Regions from separate parts of the Homo sapiens genome. Here region 1 is linked to region 2. Evidence: fine-mapped expression QTL. A gene starts in region 2. The other region holds a variant in brackets. All regions are shown on one strand. Distances are from middle to middle.

Region 1 (5,383 bases), 55 kb after region 2:
AATGTTTCAGCTCTATAAGGTCAGGGATTTGTATTCATATCGTTCACTGTGGTCATCTCAGCACTTAGAATGGTGTGTGGCACATAGTAGGTGCTTACAGTGAGTTGAATGGTGGCCCCCCCCAAAATGCATGTCCACATCCTAAGCCCTAGAACCTGTGAATGTGATCTTACTTGGGGGAAAAAAAAGGTCTTTGAAGATATAATTATGTTAAGAATCTTAGATGATATCACCCTGGATTACCTGAGTAGGCCTTCAATCTAATGACAAGTATCTTTTTAAGCAACAGAAAGGAAAAGCCATTGAAGATGGAAGCAGAGATTGGGGTGATGCGGCAATGAGCCTGGGAGCCACCAGAGGCTGTAAGAGGCAAGGAAAGATTACCTTCTAGAGCCTTCAGAGGGAGCAGAGTGTGGCCTTGTTGATACCTTAACTTCCGACTGACTTTTGACTTTCAGAACTATGAGAAAATAAATTAGTTGTAAGCTGCCCAATTTGTGACACTTTGTGAGGCTAACTCAAGGACACTAATATGTTCAATAATTTGGTAGTATGAATGAATGAGTAAATGAACGAGCTCCCAGCGTGTGGCAGGCACTGCACTGGGTACTGAAGACATAATGACAAACAAGACAGACGAGCAGTGTCATGTTGGAGATTCAATTCTAGAGGGGAAGACAGACAATAAAACTGCAAATGATGAATAAGATGTTAGTGATATTTCTCATAGTGGTTTCCTATGAAAGAAATAAATAGGGTGACAAAGGTATTTGAAATGGTGAGAGGGCTGGGGAGCTGGTGATTGGTGCTGTTTCCTGAATAGTTCCAACTGCCTGCCTTCTGGTCCCTTCATAGGATTGTGCTTCCTTGGCCCCTTGTGGTTGGGTAGGGCTATGAAACTTGCTCTCACCAATGCTTTGTGAATAGAAGCGACAGGTCATTTAATCACCATTGTGAGACCCTCCAGAGCTCTCTTTCTTTATGCCATGGCAATTAGCAACCAGCATCACTTGAAAGAGCAGCCGTTCCACCATGCTGGGTTCCAGAGGCAGTAAATGTGGGCCAACGCTCCCAGACAACACCCAATATTCATGCATGGGATTCATGCATTTTGGGACAGAATCAACAGGGTCAAGCTTGGCTGCTGGGTGTGTAGCATTTGGAGCTCGGAGTATGGTGGTGCCATTTCCCAACAGGGAAGTCTGGAGAAGACTGGCCTCTCACGGGCTGCCACACTGCATAGTGCTGGAGGGGCAGCCTTACCCCAGAGGCAGGGCAGGCAGGGATGTGACATTGAAGAGGACACTAACTGGTCCAATGGTTACCTTGATCTGCTGACCATTGCCTCACTCTAAATAACAATTGGCACTTTTAAGCTGGGCGCAGTGGCTCACGCCTGTAATCCCAGCACTTTGGGAGGCTGAGGCGGGTGGATCACCTGAGGTTAGGAGTTCGGGACCAGCCTGGCCAACATGGTGAAACCCCGTCTCTACCAAAAATGCAAAAATTAGCCAGGCGTGATGACAGGCCCCTGTAGTCCCAGCTACTTGGGAGGCTGAGGCAGGAGAATCGCTTGAATCCAGGAGGTGGAAGTTGCAGTGAGCCAAGATTGTGCCATTGCACACCAGCCTGGGTGACAAGAGCAAAACTCTGTCTCAAAAACAAACAAACAAAAATTGACACTTTTTGGTGTCATCTAAGGTTTTCACATTTATTAATGCCCTAACTTTCCTTAATCAATAAAAAAAATTGGTTCTTTTTTCTTTTTAAGACAGAGACTCCCTCCATTAGCCAGGCTAGAGTGCAGTAGTACAGTCAGGGCTCACTGCAACCTCTGCCTCCTGGGCTCAAGTGATCCTCCCGTCTCAGCCTCTCAAGTAGCTTAGACTACATGTGGGAACCGCCATGCCTGAATAATTTTTATAATTTTTGTAGAGATGGGTATTTGTCATGTTGCCCAGGCTGATCTCAAACTCTCAGACTCAAGCGATCCACCCACCTTTGCCTCCCAAGTGCTAGATTACAGGCATGATAGATATGAACCTCCATGCTCAATCTAGTTCTTTTTTTTTTTTTTTTTTGAGATGGAGTCTCATTCTGTCACCCAGGCTGGAGTGCAATGGCACGATCTCAGCTCACTGCAACCACCACCTCTCGTGTTCAAG[C/T]GATTCTTGTGCCTCAGCCTCCCAAGTAGCTGGGATTACAGGTGCCCGCCACCATGCCCAGCTACTTTTTGTATTTTTAGTACAGATGGGGTTTCACCATGTTGGCCAGGCTGCTTTCAAACTCCTGACCTCAGGTGATCCACCCACCTTGGCCTCCCAAAGTGCTGGGATTATAGGCGTGAGCCACTGCACCTAGTTCTTTCAAATGGCTCAATATATTATACTTATTGTATTATTGTTATATTCTAGTACTATATATTACATATTTCTCTCTTCTTGCCTATTGAATATAAATATTCCAGTTGCTCTATAAAAAGATTTTTAAAACCATCAAGGCAGCCTGTGAATTCCTTGTATTTGTGATCAGGTAAAATAATGCCAGTATACCACTACCAGTGCCTGGCACTGAAACACAAAATAAACACTATGTACGTAATGTTACTTGCTGCTATTATTGTTGTTATATGGTAAATATTTTGACTTGGTATCTTGTAATGTTCACCTTCTTTTGGTTTTTATATTAGTCACTAAATCTGTGTAATCTGACTTCTTTTAAATTTCTGAAAATGAGGGCATTAATATTTGAATTACAGTGAAAGTAACTATGAGGCCCCTTTTTTTTATTTTTTGTCTGCAGTGAATTACTGACTTCAGTGGATTTAATCAGCACTCCATTGCCATCTGAATGACCCTGAAAAATAGGAATGTTTTTAAGGCAAATTGCACTTTTCTTCCATGGCTACACACAGTATTTGGATGCCAATATTTCTTCTAATGAGTTTCTGCATGTTACTAGCCTATTGATGCACAGTGAGGGTGGATGGCAGGCATTCTTGGGTGCTTATAAAACTCCTCTTCTCACCCCAGCATCAGCAAACACACAGGCACACGCATGCACACACACCCAGCATCTTTTGTGCCAATGCAGTCATGACTGCATTCATGGGCCAGGGAAGCGGTAAAACTGGGCTCCTTCCTGGACTCAATACTGAGTCTGGTTTAGTCTAAAGTGATCATCAGAATGCCATCGCCCTTGCCAATGATCAAGGATGAGTGTGTTGCAAAATTCTGGCCAATGAAGGGTGTACAGGGAGATTTCTTTCATTCTTGAGCAAGGGCACAAGGAAGGAATGTTTTTCTGCTCCTGGATATAATCTTCTCACCTTGGAATTAAGGTCAGTATATTAGGAACCATGAGTGGAGCCAGCTGATGCCCTGAAGAGAATAGCAGAATGAAAAGATTAAAAGAGCCTGGATTAGCCAGGCATGGTGCTGCATGCCTGTAGTCTCAGCTACTTGGGAGGCTGAGGCAGGAGGATCACTTGAGCCCAGGAGTTTGAGGTTGCAGTGAACAGTCATCATGGCATGGCAGTCCAGCCTGAATGACAGAGCAGGGCCCTGTGTAGAAAAAAAAAAAAAAGAAAAGAGCCTGGGTTCTGGAATTAACCAGCCCTGAAACCACTCTAAGTCAGGAGTTCTGATTATAAGAAATACTTTTGTCTTAACTGTATAAGCCACTTATAGTTGCAGCTTGCTAACCAGCATCTCCGAGCAGAACATGCCAGGTGATAGAGTATCTGCATCATTTCAAACTTCTCTTCAGAAAGCTGTCATTCACTCAGCAAATATTCACTAAGCACCTATTATTTGCCAGGCAATTTACTAGGTACTGGGGATTACAGTGATGACTAAGACATGGTCCCTGTCTAAAGTCACTAACATTCTGTTGGGTGAAACAGACATTAAATGACTAACACACTTAAAATATTTTTTTTCAACTAAAATAAAGATAAATGCTATAAGGAGACATATAGGGTAATAAATAAACCATAGCAAAGGTTCTGGAGGGCCTGTGAAGGCTTCCAGGGGAAGCTGTATTTGTGCTGAGCCTTGACTAGGCTCAGGTCTTGACTAGGGCCAGGAGGAATGGGTTGCCTTGAATGAATTGGACTAATGGTGAATTAATTCCTATGTCAGGGCACACATTAGTCCATTCTCATACTGCTATAAAGAAATACCTGAGACTGGGTAATTTATAAAGCAAAGAAGTTTCATTGGATCATAGTTGCACAAGTTCCGTACATCATGTCCATTTTCTAGTAAAGAGGAAAGGTGGGGTGAGACAGGTATGTACTTCACTTTGAAGACACTTCTCTTAGCCGGGCATGGTGTCTCATGCCTGTAGTCCTAAGGCATGAGGTGGCACTCAACTCTAGAGGTGGGCTCGAACACTGGACCAAATTGAGGACTAGCTAAATCAGGGAGGGGGTAGAAGCAGCTTTCCATAAGACATGCCCACCAGTGTGCCATGTCAGTTTACCATTGCCATGGCAATGCCTGTGAGTTTCCCTTTCCATGGCAACAACCCAATGACCCAGAAGTTACTACCCTTTCCCTAGAAATTTCTGCATAAACTGCTTCTTAATCTGCATGCAATTAAAAGTAGGTATAAATATGAATGCAGAACTGCCCTGAGCTGCTACTTTCTGCCTATGGCATAGTCCTGCTCTGCAGGGGCAGTCACAGAGCTGCAACACTGCCGGAGCTATAACACTGCTGCTTCAGTAAACTGTTTTCTTCTACTCTACTAACAGCTTACCCTTAAATTCTTTCTTGGGTGAAGCCAAGAACTCTTGCAGGCTAAGCCCCAATTTGGGGCTCACCTGTCTTCCATCAGTCCCAGCTACTTGGGAGGATGAGGCAGAAAGATCACTTGAAGCCAGGAGTTCGAGGCTGTAGTGAGCTATGATTGCACCACTGCCCTCCAGCCTGGCCAACAGAGGGAGACCCTGTCTCAAAAAAGAGTAGACCCTTCTCTTCTAGGTTTTTATAATCACATGTCTTTTATTCAAGATATTAATCTCTATTAGGGATAGAGGTTATCTAGGTTTAGTAAGCTATTTTAATATCTAGTTTTATGGCTAACCAGATCCTAATTAATTTACCTTTATTAAACAAATGCTAGAAATGTTCTTAGCTTTTCAGTCTGAAACACCTAGCACTGTGGCCAGCTCTTACTAGGATGCTAGCTCCAAGATTAGCTGTGGGAAGAACCACAACCGTGTAATTTCATCTCCTTCATTCTTGATGTGCTTGTCAGCATAATGGAGGCGGGAGAGCCTCTCTAAATGGTGGCTGGGATATGCAATGAGGTACTGTATATAAGCCCAGGCAGCATAAGTTCTCTCCCAGATGCTAATCTCTTTTCATCTCTTTAC
Region 2 (5,383 bases):
CTAAGATTATAGGCACGAGCCACCACACCTGGCCCATAACTTGAAATTTTTTTAAAAGGATTTAGGAAGATGGCAAAGAAAATTTTTGATCAATTGTAAGATCAGGTGTAAATCATTGATCTTTTCCCCTGTTCAAACCAAAGCACATTTTCACAGCCCAGGTCTTCTGGAGTTAATCAAAACTGGATTGTAATTTCTACTCAGTTCCTTGAGATCTTAGTGATGTTAGACAAAAACCACTTAACTTTTGAGGCTCAATCACCTTTAAAATGGAGATAATATTATTACTTATCCCACAGGCTTGCTGTGAAGACTAAAAAGATGGCATTCCATAAATTGTATGTACCATTGTAATTAATGGTAAGGATCTTATTATTAAATACTGGACATTGCGCTAAGTGCTTCATAGCCATTATCTCATTTAATCTTTCCAACAGCCCTGTAAAATAAGCATTCCTAGCCCCCACTGTTAAGATGAGAGAAGCCTTATAGAGGTTTATTGACTTGCCTGAGATCACACAGCTAAGCGGTAGGTTGTGAACTGAGCTCAGCCTGTCTTCACAATGTTCTCAAATGCCCATGCATTAACTGCCCATGTTGGTACAAAGAGTCAACACCGGAGGTCAGATCTTTAATTGTACAGTTACTTTGCTGAATCATGTCAGACTTTCCTACATCAGTGGTCTTACTATGGTCTTACTATATTGGTAGGTTACAAAATGGCTTTAACTTGGAGGAAATGAAGATGAAATAGACTGTGGTTTTTCTCATTAAGATTCAGAAGGAAGCACTCATTCCTTGATTCTTTCTGTATTGTCTCAAAGAAAAAACAAAGGCAAAATGAACTTGGTCCTTCAGACCTTCCAAATCTGCAACCACTGCCCTCCATTTGCACCTGGTCAGCCAAATAAGCATGTGGAATGCAGGAAGGCCTTTCCCTGGGTCTAAATTCCTCCCTCTCGGCTATTCCTGTAATGCAAGTCCATTGCTTTTGATGCAAAAGCCTATCAGGTCCCGAAAACTTGCCCTTAAAGCCTATGGTTAAAGGTAGGAATAATTGAGTTTCTCATTACATTAATTTTATTTTTATTTTTTATTTGAGAAGGAGTCTGGCTCCGTCGCCCAGGCTGGAGTGCTGTGACAAAATCCCGGCTCACTGCAACTTCTGCCTTGTGAGTTCAAGCGATTCTCCTGCCTCAGCCTCCAGAGTAGCTGGGACTACAGACTCCTGCCACCACGCCCAACTAATCTTTTTGCGTTTTTTAGTAGAGACAGGGTTTCCTCATGTTGGCCAGGCTGGTCTCGAACTCCTGACCTCAAGTGATCCACACACCTCAGCGTCCCAAAGTGCCGGGATTACAGGCGTGAGCCACCACGCCCGGCGAGTCTCTCACTAGGTTTCTGTGCTATTACATCATGCACTTGAAAGTGTTGTTTAATGTGTTCAAGGAAAAATGATTGGTGAGGACCTGAAAAAATAGCTATTGATCTATTACATTAATTCTTATTCTAATGGAAATAATTCACTTTTTAAAATTTTCTTTTCACTGTAAGGTACATTTTCCCAAGAAAGTAATTTGCCCGGGCTGGAGGGCAGTGATCTCGAACTCCTGGGGCTCAGGTGATTCTCACACCTCAACCTCCCAGGTAGCTGGCATTACAAATGTGTGCCACCATGCCTGATGAATTTTTTTATTTTTTTGTAGAGATGGTGTTTCGCCATGTTGCCCGTGCTCTTCTCGAACTCCTGACCTCAAGGGATCCACCCACTTCGGCCTCCCACTGGGACTACAGGTGTGAGCCACCACATGCAGCCCCAAGGAAGTAATTCTTGATGAGTCTACAAAATCCTAATGGAGGAAAGCCCTATATTTTATCATCGAGTATCTATTTCCGCAATCTCCATAAATCCCACTGAGAAAACTACTTCCAAGCTACACTTGAGCTGCGCAGACACATGAGTATGAGTAGACACACTGGCTTGAATGGTGCTGTGGCACCACACACACACACACACGCAGTAACTTTCCTTTTTCTCCAATTTTTTTTTTGCCCTGAAAACTAAATTGAATCCATTTTCCAGAACATTTAGTGAATTTCAGAGTTCCAAATCAAAGAATTTTTCACAAAGACCCCAATCTTCTCAGAGTTTAAATTTAAAAAAAGAAAGCAGGCTAAACCTGTAGTTAAGTTTGACACACTCCAAAAAGGCAAATCACTAGGAAATGCAGCAGAAATTAAATAAATAGAAAGCCTAACATGAGGCACAAGAACAAGAGGCCACCTTATGCTGTGGCCAGCAGAGGCATTCAAACATTCCGTCAGCAGGATTCCAGCCAACCTCCGAAGCTCACTTTTATAAGCCAGCCCCAGGCATCCCAGAGCAAGATGTAGCTGTGTAGTCTCCTTCCATAGCTGCTCTAAGGGGGCTGGCAACATGGCTCAGCAGGCTTGCCCCAGAGCCATGGCAAAGAATGGACTTGTAATTTGCATCCTGGTGATCACCTTACTCCTGGACCAGACCACCAGCCACACATCCAGATTAAAAGCCAGGAAGCACAGCAAACGTCGAGTGAGAGGTAATGGGGCTTCTCAATCAAGCAAAATTCTAGGCTTAGACAGTGTGGGGAGGTGCTGGACAATGTTAATTTTCAAACTCCTCCAGGAGACTATCTTCGGTGATGGCACCATGCCATCATCCCTATATGGCATTTCAGGGGATTAAGTGAACTTGTAATGCTCTGGGATAGTTTATTTTAAAGAAACCAGGCTGCTGGGTTTTAAAAAAAAACAACAGGGAAAAAATTTGATAGTAAAAGAATTCTGTGTTGTATATTTTTTGTTAGGTGGGCTTAAATAGAATGTGCTTCAGAGGAAGCTCAAGTGGATTTCTGAAAATCTGGTGTTATTAATATGGGGCAAGAAGAATGTATTAACTGAGCACACTGTTTCACTAGTAGATATTGAGTAACTCAATTCAGTTATATTTTAAGATAACTATAATCTTATTCAATGTGTAGCAGAGGATAGAGATTTTGGTAATGGTGACTTCCTGTTTTGTCATTAGTTATCATTAGCTGTATTTCCATATCCTTGGCAGCATAAGGACAACCTATACCATATATTTAAACTTTTTCATGTCAGAGACATTGAATCTCTCCAACTTAAAAAAGTCAATATGCAAAGTCATCTAGTATTTGAAGGCATTGTGATGCAAAACTGAATCTCCCAGGAACCTCAAATTTTGAGTGACTTGAATTGGGTTAACAGGTTAAAGAAATTGAAAAGAACAATGATGATAGCGAGGTGTTTGCAATACGTTGAAACCTAAGCAAAAGAAAAAAACAAGACAGAGGGTCATGTTTTATCACATCCTCTGCATCATTTTCATTTCAGGATATTTCAGATTATGACTATTTCCTTATTTTCACTCCATTAGTAACAACACACACATACACAAATTTCAGCAAGGTTACAGTCTATTTCACATGACAGATGGCTGGTGGGTAAAAAGGGGTCTTGTGCTTTAAGGATTATAAAGTACCATTTTTTCAGGGACATTTATTTACAAAATTTAGGTCTGGTGCAAGGTTTCTTTTTTTTTTTTTTTTCTGAGACAGAGTCTCGCTCTGTCGCCCAGGCTGGAGGGCAGTGACACAATCTTGGCTCACTACAAGCTCCACCTCCTGGGTTCACGCCATTCTCCTGCCTCAGCCTCCCAAGTAGCTAGGACTACAGGCGCCTGCCACCACGCTCGACTAATTTTTTGTATTTTTAGTAGAGACGAGGTTTCGCCGTGTTAGCCAGGATGGTCTCGATCTCCTGACCTCGTGATTCGTCAGCCTCGGCCTCCCAAAGTGCTGGAATTACAGGCGTGAGCCACCGCGCCCGGCTAGTGCAAGGTTTCTTAAGTGGAATCTTTTTTCCTTAAGAAATACTGTACTTCTTTCGGTGAAAGATTAAAATATTTCTCATGAGTAGATGAAACATATTGCTGAAGATGGTATCGAAAGGAGAGGGGAGAGAGAAGATACTGGGTGACATGGTACATTTCTGTAGCCAGCGTTTCTTCACTGCTGGATGGAGTGGCACTCCTCGTGAGAGTGGCGATCACCCAGTAGGAATGTGTGAAGAGGGTCTGAACATGACTGAGTGTGCATGTGGGTGCTGTGTGGGTGTTTCTGAAGTAATCGCAGCTTAGGTCACATCCAGGTTTTCCAGGGGCCTCCCTCCCCTTCCTCCTCCCACTCTCTTCTCTCTCCCTACCTTCTTTCCCACTTCTTTACCCCCTTCTTCCCCACTGCCTCTGTCATAACCACATGTGCATGCACATGCTTTTATTTAAAAACAAAACAAAACAAAACTGACTAGGTACACACCTCTTAAATGTCATTCCCCCAGTATAGTTTTTGCTACTTTTTGCCATTAGGTCCTAGAAAGTAGATTCTACAGTAGGTGAAGCAATAAACCTAAACCGATCAAGCAATTATATCCCCACCCATCCATATACTTTTAAAATAGTTTAAGTACCTTGAAATATAATAATACCAGTGTTAAAGAGATCAAAAGTGAAAGCCATCTTCTCTCTCCCAATCCTCACCACAAAATTATCCACTATTAACTATCAGGTAATACTATTCCCAGAAGTTTTGTGTTTTGTTTTTTGTAGGATTGTTTGTTTTGAGACAGAGTCTCACTCTGCCACCCAGGCTGGAGTGCAGTGGTGTGATCTCGGCTCACTGCAACCTCTACCCACCAGGTTCAAACAATTCTAGTACCTCAGCCTCTCAAGTAGCTGGGACTACAGGTGCTCGCCACCATGCCCAGCTGATATTTGTACATACATCTTTTTTAGTATAGATGGGGTTTCACCATGTTGGCCAGGCTAGTCTCAAACTCCTGACCTCAGGTGATGGGATTGCAGGCATGAGCCATCATACCCAGCCTATTCCCAGAGTTTTTAAAATGCACAATTAAAATACATATTTTTAACAAAATAAGAATTGGCTATGCAGAATGTTTGGCTAGGCAAATAAATTTATTTCATCTATTAAACCTTGGATAGTTACCAGTGTAAGCAATACTTTATTCATTTTAACAGCTGCATAATATTCCATTGTTTGGATGGGTCATCACTTAATCTGATCTCTCCCAATACATCTCTTTTTGATTCAATAGCCCCAAGTAACTGCTTTGCACACATACTGCTCCCCATGTTAGGATGTTATGAGACATTTCCAGAAGTAAAATTGCAGGTTAATTATACTTTCTAATTGTCCCTCCAAATGATAACACCAATCCATCTTCCCATCTTCTGTGTATGGGAGTGCCCATTCCTATGTATTTTGACAGTCCAACATCATATAATGGTTTTACTGGCCAT

The links. PIP is the estimated chance that this variant, and not a neighbour inherited with it, causes the effect.
Region 1: its variant is the best candidate, but not a certain one, in a credible set for the expression of CLEC3A in coronary artery (GTEx, PIP 0.60).

The regions. Positions count from the first base shown.
Region 1 is chr16:78,075,090-78,080,472 of GRCh38, forward strand. No RefSeq gene overlaps it. Among named protein-coding and RNA genes, the nearest start is that of WWOX, 22 kb to the right of the region's middle. The variant C/T (reference allele first, on the strand shown) is at 2,166.
Region 2 is chr16:78,020,163-78,025,545 of GRCh38, forward strand. CLEC3A (C-type lectin domain family 3 member A) reads left to right here and starts at 2,386. Exons shown (of 3, transcript NM_005752.6): 1 at 2,386-2,579. The coding sequence starts at 2,465. RefSeq lists an enhancer at 21-190.